2 separate regions of the Homo sapiens genome follow, and region 2 is linked to region 1. The links come from fine-mapping of genetic effects on gene expression. Tissue or cell type: subcutaneous fat. Region 1 holds a variant in brackets; the other region holds the start of a gene. All regions are shown on one strand. Distances are between the middles of the regions.

Region 1 (8,104 bases):
GCTAGCAGGAAACAGAGTCGGGTTCTCCTTACAAGGAGAGAGAGAAGAGTGCCGGAAACTCGTGGGCCACTCCCCAATCCAGGCATCAACTCTTTCTTCCTTCAGCTCCTAAAGATCCGTTCTGGGGACCGGCCCTCCTACGTGGAGCTGACGTTCTCTCAGCACGTTCGCTGCGAATGCCGGTAGGTCTCCGGGGTCGGGTGGGTAGCAAGGAAAGGCCCCCGTCCTCTTGGCAGCCTCAGCAAAGATGGGTCCCAGGGCAGAGGCAAAGGCTGCCCATCCCCGCTGCGGGCTGAACTTTTTTCCAGACTGAGGGAGACCAAGAGGGCAGGACCAGGGGTGGCTACCATTCATTTTGTCCCCCCACCAGCCAGTTTTGCCAAGGGAGCTGGTCCCAGCAGCTGGGGTACAGCTGTTGAGATACTGCAAGGGAAGAGAGAGGGTGGGTCCCTCCCAGCCTCGCAGGGGTTCGGTGCGTGTCGTTCCCCTTCTCTGGGATGGGAGGCAGCTGCCACGGGCCTCTGAAAGAGGTGCCTGGAGGCAAAGACATTGCAAGTCTGAACTTCGTTCTGGGGCAAGCTGTGTGCCCACAGGAGCGGGCAAACGGGGCTGAGAAGCAGCAAGAAGGACAAGCTCGGGTAGGAGAAAAGGGGCAGAAGAAGAGTGACACTGTGGCTTCCTTGATGTTGCAGCACCCCTCTACGGCCCCTCCCAATCCACAGAGCCTCTGACCAGCACCAGTCTTGCTGCCTGTGCTGGGGGCACTTGGAACATTGGTTAGCAGGAGCAACAGGCCTGGCACTGCCAGCTAGGTTCAGGGAAGAGAGAAATGGGCTGAGCTGCTGCTCCTGGTACTACTGGGCCATGGATGAAGGCACCAGACTAGAAGTCCAGAGCCCTAGCCAGGGGCGGCAGGAGGGAAGACTACCACTTATTGTGTACCTATTCTGTGCCTAGCCCCGCAGGAGGCACTTGAATGTTTCTCATTTAGTCACATACATTTATTGAGCACCTACCACATGCCAGGCATTGTCCTGATGGGATGCAGTGGTGAGCAAGGTTCCTGCTCTCATAACAACCCTGGGAGGTAGGCCCTATTGTCATCCCCATTTTACAGATGAGAAAATCAAGGCTCAATACAGTTTCATGATTTATCACAGCTAGTGAGTGTGGGAGGAGGGATTCTGGGCCCTGACCTAACTCGTAAGCCTTCGTTTTTCAGGCTACCTTTCATGGCCATGACCACTTTTCTAATAGCCCCCAGGCTTAGCCTTGCCTCCTGGGCAGGGCTATGGCTGCCCCTTTTGTTGGAGTGTTGGAGACCCTGCCTCAACTTGTTTCCACCCATCCCTCCAAGCCAGAGCTTAGCCATATAACAAGAGCTCGGTAATGAACCCTCCTGGGTGCAATGCTGGGTGGTGACCCAGAGTCACCTTCTCCATCCCCTTTGCCCTGACAGCCACTCTTTTGGGGCAGGCAGATGAAGAGACTGAGGTTCCAAGAGTGTCTGTCACTTGCCCAATATGGAGAGGTACAACCAGACAGTCCCAAGAGGCCCTGGTACCTTGCCCTGGCTCCCAAGGGAGGAACCAGCTGAGGGTAGCATGTCCTGGCCCCAAAGCTGACTGCTACCATGCTGTCCCATGTCTCTACCCACTGTTCCCAGTGAAGACTGAGGCCCTATCCCCTGCCAGGGGCCAGGCAACAGGGACACCTTTCTTCTTGCTTCTGGGCCAACAGCCACAGCCCTGGGAGGCAGAGCCCAGACATGCCTGGTGACTTCAGGGCTGATGCTCCCTCCTTCCTCCCACCCCGTCGCTCACTCCCCATGTTGTTCCGGATGGAGTGGGGCTGTGCCCTGACAGGCAGCCAGTCCGCTGTCTGGCCATCATCTCCTGTCCCTGAGGAAATTCCCAGAATGCACCCTGGAAGGAACGGAAAAAAGCAGCAAAGAAAGTGAGAAAGAAAAAGCAACAGAGAACAGACAGAAACAACCAAATTTGATGCCAAGAGGCTGAGAAGTGCAGAAGCGGGTGGCAGGGGTCCCCAGGAGGTTGATTTGTCCCTCTCGTGGTGGGGTCACCAGAGCCTGGAGTGGGAGTGAAGCCTTGAGGCTCTGGCCACCTCTCCCTTGCCAACTCCATGCTACCCCCTAGTGGCCTCAGTGTCAGCTGCAGGACCAGGACTGGGGATGTCGGAGGGGACCTGTCCGGGCGGCAGGGAGCCCCACTTATTGCTTTCCTAACGTTCCTCTGCCCCTCTCTCTGTCTGTTTCCCTAGGCCTCTGCGGGAGAAGATGAAGCCGGAAAGGTAAGTGGTTTGGCTGGGGCTCGGGGCTATTCTCGGGCCTGCCAGCCTCTGTCCTAGCATGGGGTTCCCCAGCCACCTTGTCCTGACGCTTGGCTTATTGCAGGAGGAGACCCAAGGGCAGGGGGAAGAGGAGGAGAGAGAAGCAGAGACCCACAGACTGCCACCTGTGAGTGTGCGGGGTCCCAGGGATGGCGAGGAGGCTGGGCCCGAGGGGAGCCCCGCCTTGCCGCCAGGGTTAGGTTGGGGAGGGGGAGAGGCAGGACTGAGGCCAGTCTTGGGGGCAGAACAGGGAGCTGCACCTCCTCAAGACTCTAGGGCCCAGGAAGCATCAGTGGACCTTGGTTTTTGTCCCGGCTTAGCCCTAGGTTTCCATTGACCTTCAACAAATCATTTCACCTTTGTCAGCCTAGCTTTTCTCTGTGTAGAATGAGGGGCAGGAGGTCCAGCAAACATTCAGTCACTCTACAAACATTTACTGAGCACTTACTGTGTGTCAGGTACATCTGTGAGCAAACAAACAGGATTCCTGCACATTAGTGTTTACCTTTTAGTGATTAAAAGTCTGTCATCAGCTGAGACGTTATCTGGGGCCACTTCCTAGTAGCCCCGGGGAACATGTGCCCCTCGCCACTGTCTCCCAGGAGTATTTTTGCCTGTGGGTCCCCTTGCTGCTTCTAACCCACTTCGTACCTTGTGGGCAGCAGAATGGAGCCCCAGGCCTGAGTGTGGCTGGGAGAGAAGGATGAGAGGAGGGAAAACCCAAATCTGTGAGAGTAAATAGAAAAAATAAAATATTTCACGTGCACAGTCAATCAGTCACTGAAGAGAGGTGGCTCTCCTTCAGGGGCTAAGCCTCCCCCACGCACGTGACTCCAGGAAGTCATTTCGTGCTATGGAGTGGAGTTGACCCAAGCCCTGACCCCATGAGCCCCACTCCATGAAGACAGGGATCCTGGGGACTGCGCCCCCTAGGGGTTTATGCTCTCATCTCTTTTCTGGGCCCGCGCGGCAATTTGGGAAACAAGCTGGCAGGGAAGTCCATCCAGGCCCGAGTTACCCGCCGGCAGCCGGAGGCAGAAAGTGTCCCGTGGCTCCTGTTCCCAAGGCAGCAGTCTTCAGACATTTCACTCGGGAATCTCCTGAAAGAATTTCAAAAGTGGCCGGGCGCAGTGGCTAACACCTGTAATCCCAGCACTTTGGGAGGCCGAAGTGGGTAGATCACTTGAGGTCAGAAGTTCGAGGCCAGCCTGACCAACACGGTGAAACCACATCTCTACTAAAAATACAAAATTAGCTGGGCGTGTTGGTGCATGCCTGTAATCTCAGCTACTTGGGAGGCTGAGGCAGGAGAATCGCTTGAACCCGGGAGGCGGAGGTTGCAGTGAGCCGAGATCACGCCACTGCACTCCAGCCTGGGTGACAGAGCAAGACTCCGTCTCAAAAAAAAAAAAAAAAAGAATTCCAAAAGCCCATGTGCTCCCTTGCCCATTCTTAAGTTGACATTGAACATTTTCATCAGAATTATAAGTCAAGCCAGGCTCAGTACCTCATGCCTGTAATTCTAGCACTTTGGGAGGCCGAGGCGAGTGGATCGCTTGAGGCCAGGAGTTCAAGCCTAGCCGGGGCAACATGGTGAAACCTCGTCTCTACAAAAAAAATACAAAAACTAGCTGGACGTGGTGCCATGTGCCTATAGTCCCAACTACTCAGGAGGCTGAGGTGGAATGATCACCTGAGCCTGGGAGGTCAAGGCTGCAGTGAGCCGAGATAGATCCACTGCACCTCAGCCTGGGTGACAGAGTAAGAACCTGTCTCAAAAAAAAAAAAGTATAAGTCATTACAAAGGATATAATTTCTGGCATATTATTAATATTTTAATACAAAGCTATTGTAGAACACTCTCCAGGTGTATCCTATTAAATACGCCATTTTAATGTTATACTCACCATCATCCACTTTTAAGAAAATGAACAAGCAGGCCAGGCGCGGTGGCTCACACCTGTAATCCCAGCACTTTTGGAGGCCAAGGCGGGCGGATCGCAAGGTTAGGAGATCGAGACCATCCTGGCTAACATGGTGAAACCCCATCTGTACTAAAAATACAAAAAATTAGCCGGGTGTGGTGG[T/C]GGGTGCCTATAGTCCCAGCTACTCGGGAGGCTGAGGCAGGAGAATGGCATGAACCCGGGAGGCGGAACTTGCAGTGAGCCGAGATCACGCCACTGCACTCCAGCCTGGGACAGAGCAAGACTCCGTCTCAAAAAAAAAAAAAGAAAATTAACAAGCAAAAAAAAAAAAAATACAGGAACACTTCCTTTCATAATTATATATTTACATTGTTTCTTTTTTCCTGGAACTTGTATTTCCATTTCACTCCCCACCCCCAAGAATTTCAGCCTAGTGTAACAGTACTTTTAATTTTCAGAAGTCTTTTATTGATTACCTTGTCATATTTATCTGCCACAAAAAAATGATATATGAGTTTGAATTATTTTAAATTTCCTGTGAGCATAAACCTAAATTAAATTTTCTCCTGGAATAAATTATCAAAATAATTCTTAGTAGCACCATTTGGTCAAAACAGCACAAATACTTCCTATTTTAATAGATGTTCAACATAAAAATACAATCAATTTGATTGGGAATGCATCTCAATGAGATGGATGTGGCTACCTCGTTTCAATTAGTGAATGAATCCATTAATGAATGTTACTTCCTGCCAGACTGAGACAGGATTCTGCATTAATTTAATTCCTGTTTATCATTTTTTTATTGATGAGAAGGTTGAGAAACCATGTTCACATAAATAAGTAAATGAGACTAGATGTCACTCAATTACTTGAACTCCTTCCTTCCAAGTTATTTGCCAGAAATCTCAAGGTGCTCTGCTAAGAACAAATTACTTCTCATGATATCCTGGCTGACAATTTGGTTAAGCTGTTCTTCAGTTTTGTTGAAAGCCTTGGTTACCCAGTCATTAGCCATATTTTCTTTCTCAAGACCTACATCAATATCTCAAATTGTTCTTTTTTTCATGTCCTCAGAATACTTTTACCTGGCAGCAAAGCACTTTATGAGGATTTAGAATGAGCAAGATGTGTTGTGGCCAGAGAAGCAGATCTCAGCCACTGCCTCACAAAAATAATTTTAAGGCAATGTAGACCTGGAGGCTGAAAATGGATTTCTTTAAAACCGTCAGTACTCAGGCCTCACGTGCGTCTAGCGGTACTCCCCTGTTTGGAGACTGCTGTCTTAGGGTAATCAGAGGCATGATTGCATGGAGTGTGATTAGGTTCAAATGTGGCTCTGTCACCGACTGGCCGTGTGACCACAGGCAAGCTTCTTCACCTCTCTGGGCCTCAGTTTCCTAATCTTCACAAGAATAATCAGGGTGCCTTCCTCATGGAAGGTTGTTGAGGGTTAAGAAGACAGTGCTTGGCACAGGGCTGGGCACATGGGTAAGTGTTTGGTGAAGGGTAGCTCCCAGCTTCTCCTCAGCTTGAAGCAAGCAGGGACCCAGGAGCACTGCGCCCTCCCCATGCTCCCTGCCCAAGCTCCTCCTCTGGGCCTGCCCCCTCCTCCATAGGAGGAGACCGCACCCTCCACAGTGTGCTGATACCCGCCCCGTCTGTGCTTGGTCTCTGGCAGGTGCGGCGATGCTGTTCCCCGGAGGTAACCCACCCCTTGGAGGAGAGAGACCCCGCACCCGGCTCGTGTATTTATTACCGTCACACTCTTCAGTGACTCCTGCTGGTACCTGCCCTCTATTTATTAGCCAACTGTTTCCCTGCTGAATGCCTCGCTCCCTTCAAGACGAGGGGCAGGGAAGGACAGGACCCTCAGGAATTCAGTGCCTTCAACAACGTGAGAGAAAGAGAGAAGCCAGCCACAGACCCCTGGGAGCTTCCGCTTTGAAAGAAGCAAGACACGTGGCCTCGTGAGGGGCAAGCTAGGCCCCAGAGGCCCTGGAGGTCTCCAGGGGCCTGCAGAAGGAAAGAAGGGGGCCCTGCTACCTGTTCTTGGGCCTCAGGCTCTGCACAGACAAGCAGCCCTTGCTTTCGGAGCTCCTGTCCAAAGTAGGGATGCGGATCCTGCTGGGGCCGCCACGGCCTGGCTGGTGGGAAGGCCGGCAGCGGGCGGAGGGGATCCAGCCACTTCCCCCTCTTCTTCTGAAGATCAGAACATTCAGCTCTGGAGAACAGTGGTTGCCTGGGGGCTTTTGCCACTCCTTGTCCCCCGTGATCTCCCCTCACACTTTGCCATTTGCTTGTACTGGGACATTGTTCTTTCCGGCCAAGGTGCCACCACCCTGCCCCCCCTAAGAGACACATACAGAGTGGGCCCCGGGCTGGAGAAAGAGCTGCCTGGATGAGAAACAGCTCAGCCAGTGGGGATGAGGTCACCAGGGGAGGAGCCTGTGCGTCCCAGCTGAAGGCAGTGGCAGGGGAGCAGGTTCCCCAAGGGCCCTGGCACCCCCACAAGCTGTCCCTGCAGGGCCATCTGACTGCCAAGCCAGATTCTCTTGAATAAAGTATTCTAGTGTGGAAACGCTGATCTAGTGGGTGTGTCTTCCGGGGCAGTGAGCGTCAGCCGGGAACGGAAGCCAGACAGACCCAGGGATCGGGGTGTAACAGGAAGAGCACAGCACCTTCTCCGAGCCTCAGTTTCCTTATCTCAAAAGCCTCGCTCAGTCGACGAGAGGGCATGTCACAGCTCACGACAACATGTTAGCTTGCTCCTTCCTTCCTCCTTTTGACAGCTGAGGACACTTAGGCCCAAGAAGGTGAAATGGCTGATGGAGAGTTAAGAGCACTGAAGCGGGGGTCAGAGGCCTGGCTTTGTCTATAACTCACCGAGTGGCACTGGGCTTCCCTCTGCCTTCACGTTTCATCTCTGACCTGAGGGGCCTGGCTAGATGGCTCTTCTGGCTTTGACACATTTCTACTGGGGCCCAGGCTCAAGTCTCGGTGGCCCTGGGTGGTCACTGGAGACTGTTCCTGTGGAGGCCACTTCAAGGCTGCCCCGGAGGTCGCCCAACCTGCTTCTACAGCACCCTGGGGTCGCCCCTTCCCTAACGAGGAGCTCCCAAGATGTAGTTTTGTTTCCAAAGTTGAGGAGAGGCTGGTCCCAGCCACTTTTTAACAGCATCAAGAGCACAATCTCCTCCTCTCCCAGGGCTTAGGGCTGCCCCAGCCCAGTGCCGCAAGGACTCCCGAACTCCTCCGGCCCTCCTGATAGACATCCTGGGCTGGGTCTCAGGGCGCTGAACGGCAGCACGTATAGCCTGCTCGGGCTGCTGAACAGACGCAAGGACCAGCAGATGCTGCCCGGATTTCTCTGCCTTTTACCCCCCAGTTCCTTCCGTCTTCCTCCTCAGTGCTTTGGCAGGAAAAAAATAAATCTTCTTATTATTTTTTAATGGTTTTTTTTTTGAGACGGAGTCTCCTTCTGTCGCCCAGGCTGGAGTGCAGTGCCACAATCTCGGCTCACTGCAACCTCCACCTCCCAGGTTCAAGCGATTCTCCTGCCTCAGCCTTCTGAGTAGCTGGGATTACAGGCGTGCGCCACCATGCCCGGCTAATTTTTGTATTTTTAGTAGAGACAGGGTTTCACCATGTTGACCAAGCTGGTCTTGAACTCCTGACCTCAAGTGATCCACCCGCCTCAGCCTCCCAAAGTGCTGGGATGACAGGCATGAGCCACCATGCCAGGCCTATTTTTTTTTTAATCCAAACCACTTACTATCAAACTCCACTCTGCTTCTGACCTGCAAGGGGTGTGTGTGTGTGTGTGTGTG
Region 2 (8,104 bases), 120 kb before region 1:
TACAAGGAAATTCCTTGGTGGACCCTCCAGATCAGTCTTTTTTTTTTTTTTAATTCCTCGTTTTCATCCCTAGTTGACTCTACCGCCTCTCCGTATATGCAGCTCCAGACGTTTCCCACTCCACTCAGGGTCCCGATTATCAACTCCCACAGCTTCCCTCAGCAGAATTTACCGGCTTTCTTTTTCTCTTTCTCTCTCTCTCTGTCTCTCTCTCTTCTTCCTCCTCTCCCTCTCTCCTCTGTTTCTGTCTCTGTCTGTCTCCCTCTCTCCTCTCTCTCTCTCCTTCCCTCTCCTCTATGAGAAAGAAGGGCGACTTTCCATTGAGTTCCATTGAGTTCTCTTGAATTAGTCCTTTTCAGTACCCTCCGGGAATTGACTCCATCACTTTACCCCTGCATTTTTGTTTTGTTTTGTTTTCTGTTTTGTTGGTTTTTGGGGTTTTTTAAAGTTGTTTGTTTTTTGTTTTTTGAGACGGAATCTCGCCCTGTTTTGTTGCCCAGGCTGAAGTGCAGTGGCGCACTCTTAGCTCACTGCCACCTCTGCCTCCTGGGTTCAAGTGATTCTCCTGCCTCAGCCTCCCGAGTAGCTGAGATTACAGGCGTCTGCCACTACACCTGGCTAATTTTTTGTATTTTTAGTAGAGACAGAGTTTCACCATGTTGGCCAGGCTGGTCTTGAACTCCTGACCCCAGGTGATCCGCCTGTCTCAGCCTCCCAAAGTGCTGGGATTACAAGCATGAGCCACCGGGCCTGGCCTTTGTTTTTGAGACAGGGCCTCACTCTGTTGCCCAGGCTGAAGTGCAGTGGCACAATCACTGCTCACTGGAGCCTCAACTTCCACAGCTCAAGTGATCCTCCCACCTCAGCCTCCCGAGTAGCTGGGACTACAGGTGTGTGCCCCCCACACCCAGCTTACTTCTTTTTTTTTTTTCTGTAGAGACAGGGTCTCCCTTTGTTACCCAGGCTGGTCTCAAACCCCTGGAGTCAAAAGAGATCCTCCCGCCTCAGTCTCACAAAGTACTGAGATTATAGACGTGAGAGACGGCACCCTGTCTGCATCTTGTTAACTTCAAGTTATACCTCTCCATAAACTCTGTCTCTTTGGTTTTAACATATACTCAACTTTCCCCTGCAAAACAAACCTTACTTCCCTTGACCTAACTTTCATATTACAGTCCCATTCATTTCTCCTCTTCTCCACAAGACTTCTTAATGGAAATCTCCACATTTGCTGCCCACATATCCTCATCTCCCCGTCATTGTCCAGTTCATTGTGGCCTGTCTTCTACTTTCTCCACTTTATTTAACTACAAAGCTACCAGTGACTTTCCAAAGACAAAAGCTTCATTTTTTCAGCCTACTCATGTGACATTACTGATTATCCACCCACTTAGAATGCTCTTCTCAGTTCTCCTGTGCCCTCTTGGTTTCTTCTTTCATGTTCTTGCTCCATCTTCTTCCAAGTCTGGCATTTATCTTTTCCCCATCTACTCCCTAAATTTAAGTGTTTTCTGAAGCCCTCTTATTTCATATATATGTGTGTGTGTGTGTGTGTGTGTGTGTGTGTGTGTGTGTGTGTGTAGTTCCAGACATTCTCTTCTTTAATGATTTCAACCAAATGCTGAAATTTCAGGTTTCACCTGTGTTTAAATGACAGCCAGCTTAGCTTTAGTCTTTCTCATTAGTTACAGACTCAAATTTCAGGACTGCCCATTTGACACCTCCACAAGATTGTTCCTTAGGAACCTCAAATTCTGTAAGACAACATAAACTCTGATCCTCTCCCATTCTCAAATCTGCCTCTCCAGTGTGCCCTTGCATGCTCACAGCATCAGTCTTCCATGCTTCCCTCTTTGTTGCCTCTTCCTTCTAACTAATCACAAGTTTTATTGAGTTTTCTTCCTTTTTTTCTTTGAGACAGTCTTGCTCTGTCATCCAGATGGGGGTGGAGTGGCGCGATCTCAGCTCACTGCAACCTCTGCCTCTCAGGTTCAAGCAATCCTCCTGCCTTGGCCTCCCTAGTAGCTGGAAGTACAGGTGTGCACCACCACGCCCAACTAATTTCTGTATTTTTAGTAGAGATGGGGTTTCATCAGTCTCAAACTCCTGACCTCAGGTGATCCACCTGCCTTAGCCTCCCAAAGTGCTGGGATTACAAACGTGAGCCATCACGCCTGGCCTATTGAGTTTACTTCTGCAATGTCTCTCATATATGACTCTTCCTTTACATTTCTGCTGCCCCAGGTGAGTTTTTCCTCACTTCTCCTTGGGATGGCATAGCCCTCCTAACTTCTGCTCTTGCCTTCAATATCTGCTCTTCAAACCCATCCTTCATGCTGCAGGCAAAATAATCAGTCTAAATATTTCTCCACCCCCCCCCAGCTTTATTAAAATATAATTGACAAGCAAAAATTATATCTATATTTGCAGTGTACAAAGTGATGTTTTGATAATGTATGCATTGTGCAGTGATTAAATCAAGCTAATTACTAAATGCTTCTGATCCTACCATTTCCCTCCCCAGTAGCTTCTTCTTTACCTATAGAATAAAGTTGAAATGCATAATTTAGCATGGCATCTCTACCTCCCAGATTAGGTCCAGCCTACCTTTTCAGTTTTGCCTCCCCTTAATAAGCCACAGAGTTCAACCCAGTGAGTCTCATCCCTGACTGTGTGTTAAGACTACTTGGAAAGCAATATCTAGGGGTGAGGCCTGAGGATTAACATTTTTAAAGCTTCCCCAAAGATCCTGATGCACAAGCAGGGTAGCAAACCCCTGGTCTAGCCACAACTGGCTACTTGTACTTCTTCATCTCCATGGTACTACATTACTCTAAGCTCCACATACTGGGAGCTGGTAGAGCATAGCATTCATGGGGATTGACTCTGGAACCAAATCCCAGCTCCATCACTTACTGGTTGTGTGACCTTGGATTAAATGCTGTTTCCTCCAAGAACTCTTTCCCTGTCTTCCCAATCAGAATTAATTTGTTTGCTCCTTTGTAATATTTTCTGTCCTTGTTATAGCACAGGGCTGGTTCCTGATGAGCTCTCAATGGATTTTCATGGAATTAAATTATCATGCCATATATTTTATTGTCATTATTTGCATGCATTTGTGCCCCTACACTAAATTAAAAACTCTTTGAGGGCAAAGATTTTATATCATTCATCTTTGTATATCCTAGAGTGCCCCATTCGTATTAGACACTCAGTAAGTTTTGAATTCTATAAACTATTTTTTAAATGAATTTTAGAGAAAGAAATACCATTAGCAAGATACTCTATTTAGAGTTATTTTCAAATATTGCCAAGTACAACATTCAATCCAGCTTGTTCACCACCAACCCCCCACCTCTCAGCACTAAGGTTGTATGATTCTCTAGGATATGGATCCTCACTCTAGCGGGGAACTAGCAGAATGATGAATTTCCGTGCCTACTGTCACAAACCCATATCTCATTGTCAAGTCTGCCAACCTGGCATATTCACATAAGGAGTCTTTACGTTATGAAGAGGTGTAATGTATACAGTCAATCCACAGAGGATCAATAAACACCACAGTTTTCCTTCACACACATGAATCATAAGGGTAGCTGGATTCAAATGTTTACACATCAACTCTAATTTTAACCATCTTCATCCACATCCCCCTTGACAATTCCCTGTTCCCAAAATAAATTCGTGTAGTTTGGCCATTTGGCTTAGATTGACTGACTCAACTGTAATTCTGGAGCCATGAGTTATTTTGCTTGTGCTCTTGCTTTATTTGTGTAGTTAGCTGGTTATTTGTTCAAGCATTATTTGACATTTTCTTAGTAAAGGAGACCGGTGAGTAGCTTCCAGAAGCCCAGAAGCAGACATAACCTCCATTGGGACCTCCTGTGCACTTATGCCCCGTAATCCCCTATTCCAGATTGTTATGACCCAAACTTTAAGGAGAACTGAATGAAAAAGGACAGAAAGGTTAAATGTATCCTACTCAACATATTTATGATGTTTATTTTTTTATTTATTAATTTATTTATTTGAGTCAGAGTCTCCCTCTGTTGCCCAGGCTGGAGTGCAGTGGGGCAATCTCGGCTCACTGCAGCCTCCACCTCCCAGGTTCAAGCGATTCTCCTGCCTCAGCCTCCCGAGTAGCTGGGATTACAGGCGCCCGCCACCATGCCCGGCCAATTTTTGTATTTTTGGTAGAAACGGGGTTTCACCATGTTGGCCAGGCTGCTCTCGAACTCCTGACCTCAAGTGATTCGCCCGTGTCGGCCTCCCAAAGTGCTGAGATTACAAGCTATTTATGATGTTTAATGTGTGCTGTTTGTCTCTCACCTCCAGAATTAAGCTCCTCAGGACAGGGATCCTGTTTTGTTCACTGATGTTTGCCTGGTCACCTAGAACAGGTGCCTGGCACACAGTAGCTGTCAGTCAGTATTTAATTGAATGATTGAATGTATCCCCATGTACTTCTTCGTCTATGCCTTTCTCCTCATGAGAAAATGAGAAGAGGGTTGCGCTTGTTGACTGAGATGCGATGAGGGCTAGGTTTGTGGAGGCCCAGCCGAGTTCCTGGACAGATCCCCAACCCAAAGCTTTTGGGTTGCCGGACAACCGCGTCCTGAAATCCCACCTTCTGGGCGGGCCCGGGCCGAGGCGCCGTCTCTGATTGGTCAGCTGGAGGTGATGGGCATGAGCGACAGCGAAGGAGCAGCTACACACTAAACTTCCGGGCGCGGAGGTTTGCGCGCCTTGGTGAGCCGTTGGCGTGGTGGTCCCGGAGTGATCCTGGCAGCCGGTGGGGAAGACAAGGAGGGTGAGCCGCCAGGGGCCCCCAGGGTGTGCTTCTCAGGTCGATTAGCCCTAAAATGTTAGTAGCAGGGGATTCTGGGAGTTAGTAGCAGGGAATTCTGGTAGTGAGGGAGCGGGACCGGGCATGGATGTAAGGAGGTCATCGGTCCTCAGGTTATTTCCCCAGAAGAGGCTTCAGCGGGCAGCTGCGATCCGAAGCTCCCTCTCCCGGCGTCTGGTTCTTCCTTCACACACACCTTATCACATCCACTCACGTTTCCATTTCCAGGACCTTGAAGTCGGGGAGAGGTCGCAATGGTTAAGGATGGACAGGGGTGGGTGTGGCCCTTTCTGACTCAGGCTTGCGGGTCCTGGAATAATAGCCCTTCACTCTTCTGCTTTCCTGGTTTCTGACAGGTTTGAGCATGGCAGAAGGAAACACCCTGATATCAGTGGATTATGAAATTTTTGGGAAGGTGCAAGGGGTGTTTTTCCGTAAGCATACTCAGGTATGTGGCCTGCAGGCTTTGGGGTGGTAACCTAGGTTGTGGGCATAGGAACAAGGGACGTGTTCTTGACAAATGTGAACTAGAAGCCGCTGGCTATTTGGTAGCTGCATGGCAAAGAGGTAGTTTGTAGAGCAATGAGTATGAAAATGCTGTGCAATCGGTAAAACATGGTGTAAATGGAAGATCACCCTGCTGTTATTATTAGTCAGTGGTGCCTGAGCATCTAGATACACATATTAATGAGCTTCTCTCTTCCAAGGGAAATAGAGGGCTTCCCCAGTGCTCGCCGTTGTGGCATCATCAAACCAAGTCAGGTTTCTTATAGAAAGGCTAACATTGATTGAAGAGCTGGCATTTAGATGACCTGATGTCATGTATATAACATATATAAATGCTTCCTCTGCAGCTGCTGCACTTTCTTCAGACCTCTTTCTCCAAGCTTCCCTCAGTTCTCCACTTAATTTCTTTCTATTCTTTTTTGGTTTTGAAAGAACATTTACCTTTTCCAGCTGACGTTTTTCTTATTAAAAACTCTTTATCCATTCCAGAATAGGTGATGGGAACACTGAATGTGGAGCCTGGTATTCTTCCTAGAGCAATAAAGGATTATTTGAGGGGATGGACAAACTGTTGGCAGCCTCTACCTCTGCTTTAATGTGGCTAATCTTCCCTCAACAGGCACACACAAATGCAAGCTCAATTTACCCTCTGCCTTCTGTAGGTATTGGCTATTGCCTTCCCAGTGTGTCGCTAATCCCACAGATAATGAGTTAGGACTGCAAAACTTCTTTTTTTTTTTTTTTTTTTTTTGTATTTTTAGTAGAGACAGGGTTTCACCATCTTGGCCAGGCTGGTCTTGAACTCCTGGCCTCGTGATCCATCCGCCTCAGCCTCCCCAAGTGCTGGGATTACAGGTGTGAGCCACCGCACCCGGCCAGGACTGCAGAACTTCTTAAGTGTCTCATTCCTGGGACTGTGGTACTTAAAATTCAAATTCTAACCTGGAAGGAATCTTTGAAACATGAATGTGAATTGTCAATACCTCTTTCCCTTTTTCTTTTTTTTTTCTGAAGGATGGTGGCACAGTCACAGCTTATTGCAGCCTTAACCTCCCAGGCTCAAATGATCCTCCTTCCTCAGCCTCCCAAGTAGCTGGGACCACAGGTGCATGCCGCCACACCCAGCTTTTTTTTTTTTTTTCTCTTTTAACAGAGAGCTATGTTGCCCAGGCTGGTCTCAAACTCCCAGGCTCAAGTGATCCTTCTGCCTCGGCCTCCCACCAGTGTGCTGGGATTACAGGCATGAGTGACCATACCCAGCCAATACCTCTTTTTCTTTTCTTTTCTTTTTTTTTTTTTTTTTTTTTTTGAGACAGAGTTTCATTCTTTTTGCCCAGGCTGGAGTGCAATGGCACGATCTCAGCTCACCGCAACGTCCGCCTCCCGGGTTCAAGCGTTTCTCCTACTTCAGCTTCCCAAGTAGCTGAGATTACAGGCATGTGCCACCATGCCCCGCTAATTTTGTATTTTTAGTAGAGACAGGGTTTTTCCATGTTGGTCAGGCTGGTCTTGAACTCCCAACCTCAGGTGATCCGCCCACCTTGGCCTCCCAAAGTGTTGGGATTACAGGTGTGAGCCACTGTGCCCGGCCAATACCTCTTTTTCTAATTATTCAAAAATCATTTCTTCCCATCTGACACTCAAATAGGAAATGACTGTTGAAAACAGAATTGCTGAAACTCACAGCAAGAGCTGTGTTCCAGTTAGCTTTGCTACCAGTTATGCAGGTAAGTTCCTGTAAATTAAGGTGATTGAGATAACAGCTTCAAAGATTAGTCAAAGTTGTTGAGGGAAAAGGGTCAGATAGTGGTATGCATAGCCCATCTTTCTCTACCTGCCCCTCTCCCCAGTTTAAAGAGAGAATAACAGAATGCAGAAAAACAAATATTGATTGGAAAACTGCATATAAAATGACATCTATTTTTTCTTAATTAGGCTTGTAGCTTATTCTTTACTATTTATAATCATTTAAATATATATGTTCATTTGAACAGTTGTTTTGCTGCAATGTTTGCTGTTGATATTATCTAGCCTCTTATTTAAATTCCTTCATTTCTAGAGAAGTGACAAATAATAATTCAGGGACTTTTGAAAACTTGGAATATAATTTACATCCCATAAAACCCATCCTCCTAAAGTGTATAATTTGGTGATTTTTAGTATATTCACAAAATGTTGCACTAATTCCAGAACATTTTCATCATCCCAAAAAGAAACCCCTACCTAGGTTAGCACTCACTCCTCATCCCCTGAGCCCCTGGCAACCACTAACCTACTTTCTGTCTCTATGGATTTGCCTATTCTAGATTGTTGTTGTTGTTGTTGTTGTTGTTGAGACAGAGTCTCAACTCTGCCTCATTCTGTCACCCAGGCTGGAGTGCAGTGGCGTGATCTCGGCTCACTGCAACCTCTGCCTCCTGGGTTCAAGTGATTCTTCTCCCTCAGCATCCCAGGTAGCCGGGATTACAGGCATGCACCACCATGCCCAGTTAACTTTTGTATTTTTAGTAGAGATGGGGTTTCACCATGTTGGCCAGGCTGGGTCTTGAACTCCTCACCTCAGGTGATCCACCTACCTCAGCCTCCCAAAGTGCTGGGATTACACGCATGAGCCACCGTGTTCAGCCTATTCTTGATATTTAATATAAATGGAATCATACAAATGTGGCCTTTTTTTGTGACTGGCTCCTTTCACTTAACATATTGTTTTCAAGGTTTATCTACACTGTAGCATGTATTAGTATCCTATTC

Which allele goes with the higher level. Alleles are on the strand shown, and positions count from the first base shown. SD is a standard deviation of normalised expression in the study named.
For the expression in subcutaneous fat of the gene that starts at base 4,740 in region 2, C is the low allele of the variant in region 1 and T is the other (moderate effect, 0.64 SD a copy in GTEx).

Evidence for each region. PIP is the estimated chance that this variant, and not a neighbour inherited with it, causes the effect.
Region 2: ACYP1 starts here. The variant in region 1 is fine-mapped to the expression of ACYP1 in subcutaneous fat (GTEx, PIP above 0.99). The same link has a PIP of 0.9 or more in esophagus mucosa.

The regions. Positions count from the first base shown.
Region 1 is chr14:74,940,585-74,948,688 of GRCh38, reverse strand. PGF (placental growth factor) reads left to right here. Exons shown (of 7, transcript NM_002632.6): 4 at 106-182; 5 at 2,281-2,310; 6 at 2,414-2,476; 7 at 5,956-6,855. The coding sequence ends at 5,983. It overlaps LOC107984690 (a long non-coding RNA gene), which reads right to left and starts at 5,960. Exons shown (of 3, transcript XR_001750826.3): 1 at 4,257-5,960; 2 at 1-3,449. RefSeq lists a silencer at 2,181-2,230. The variant T/C (reference allele first, on the strand shown) is at 4,437.
Region 2 is chr14:75,060,660-75,068,763 of GRCh38, reverse strand. It overlaps ACYP1 (acylphosphatase 1), which reads left to right and starts at 4,740. Exons shown (of 3, transcript NM_001107.5): 1 at 4,740-4,810; 2 at 5,203-5,294. The coding sequence starts at 5,211. RefSeq lists an enhancer at 4,400-4,569.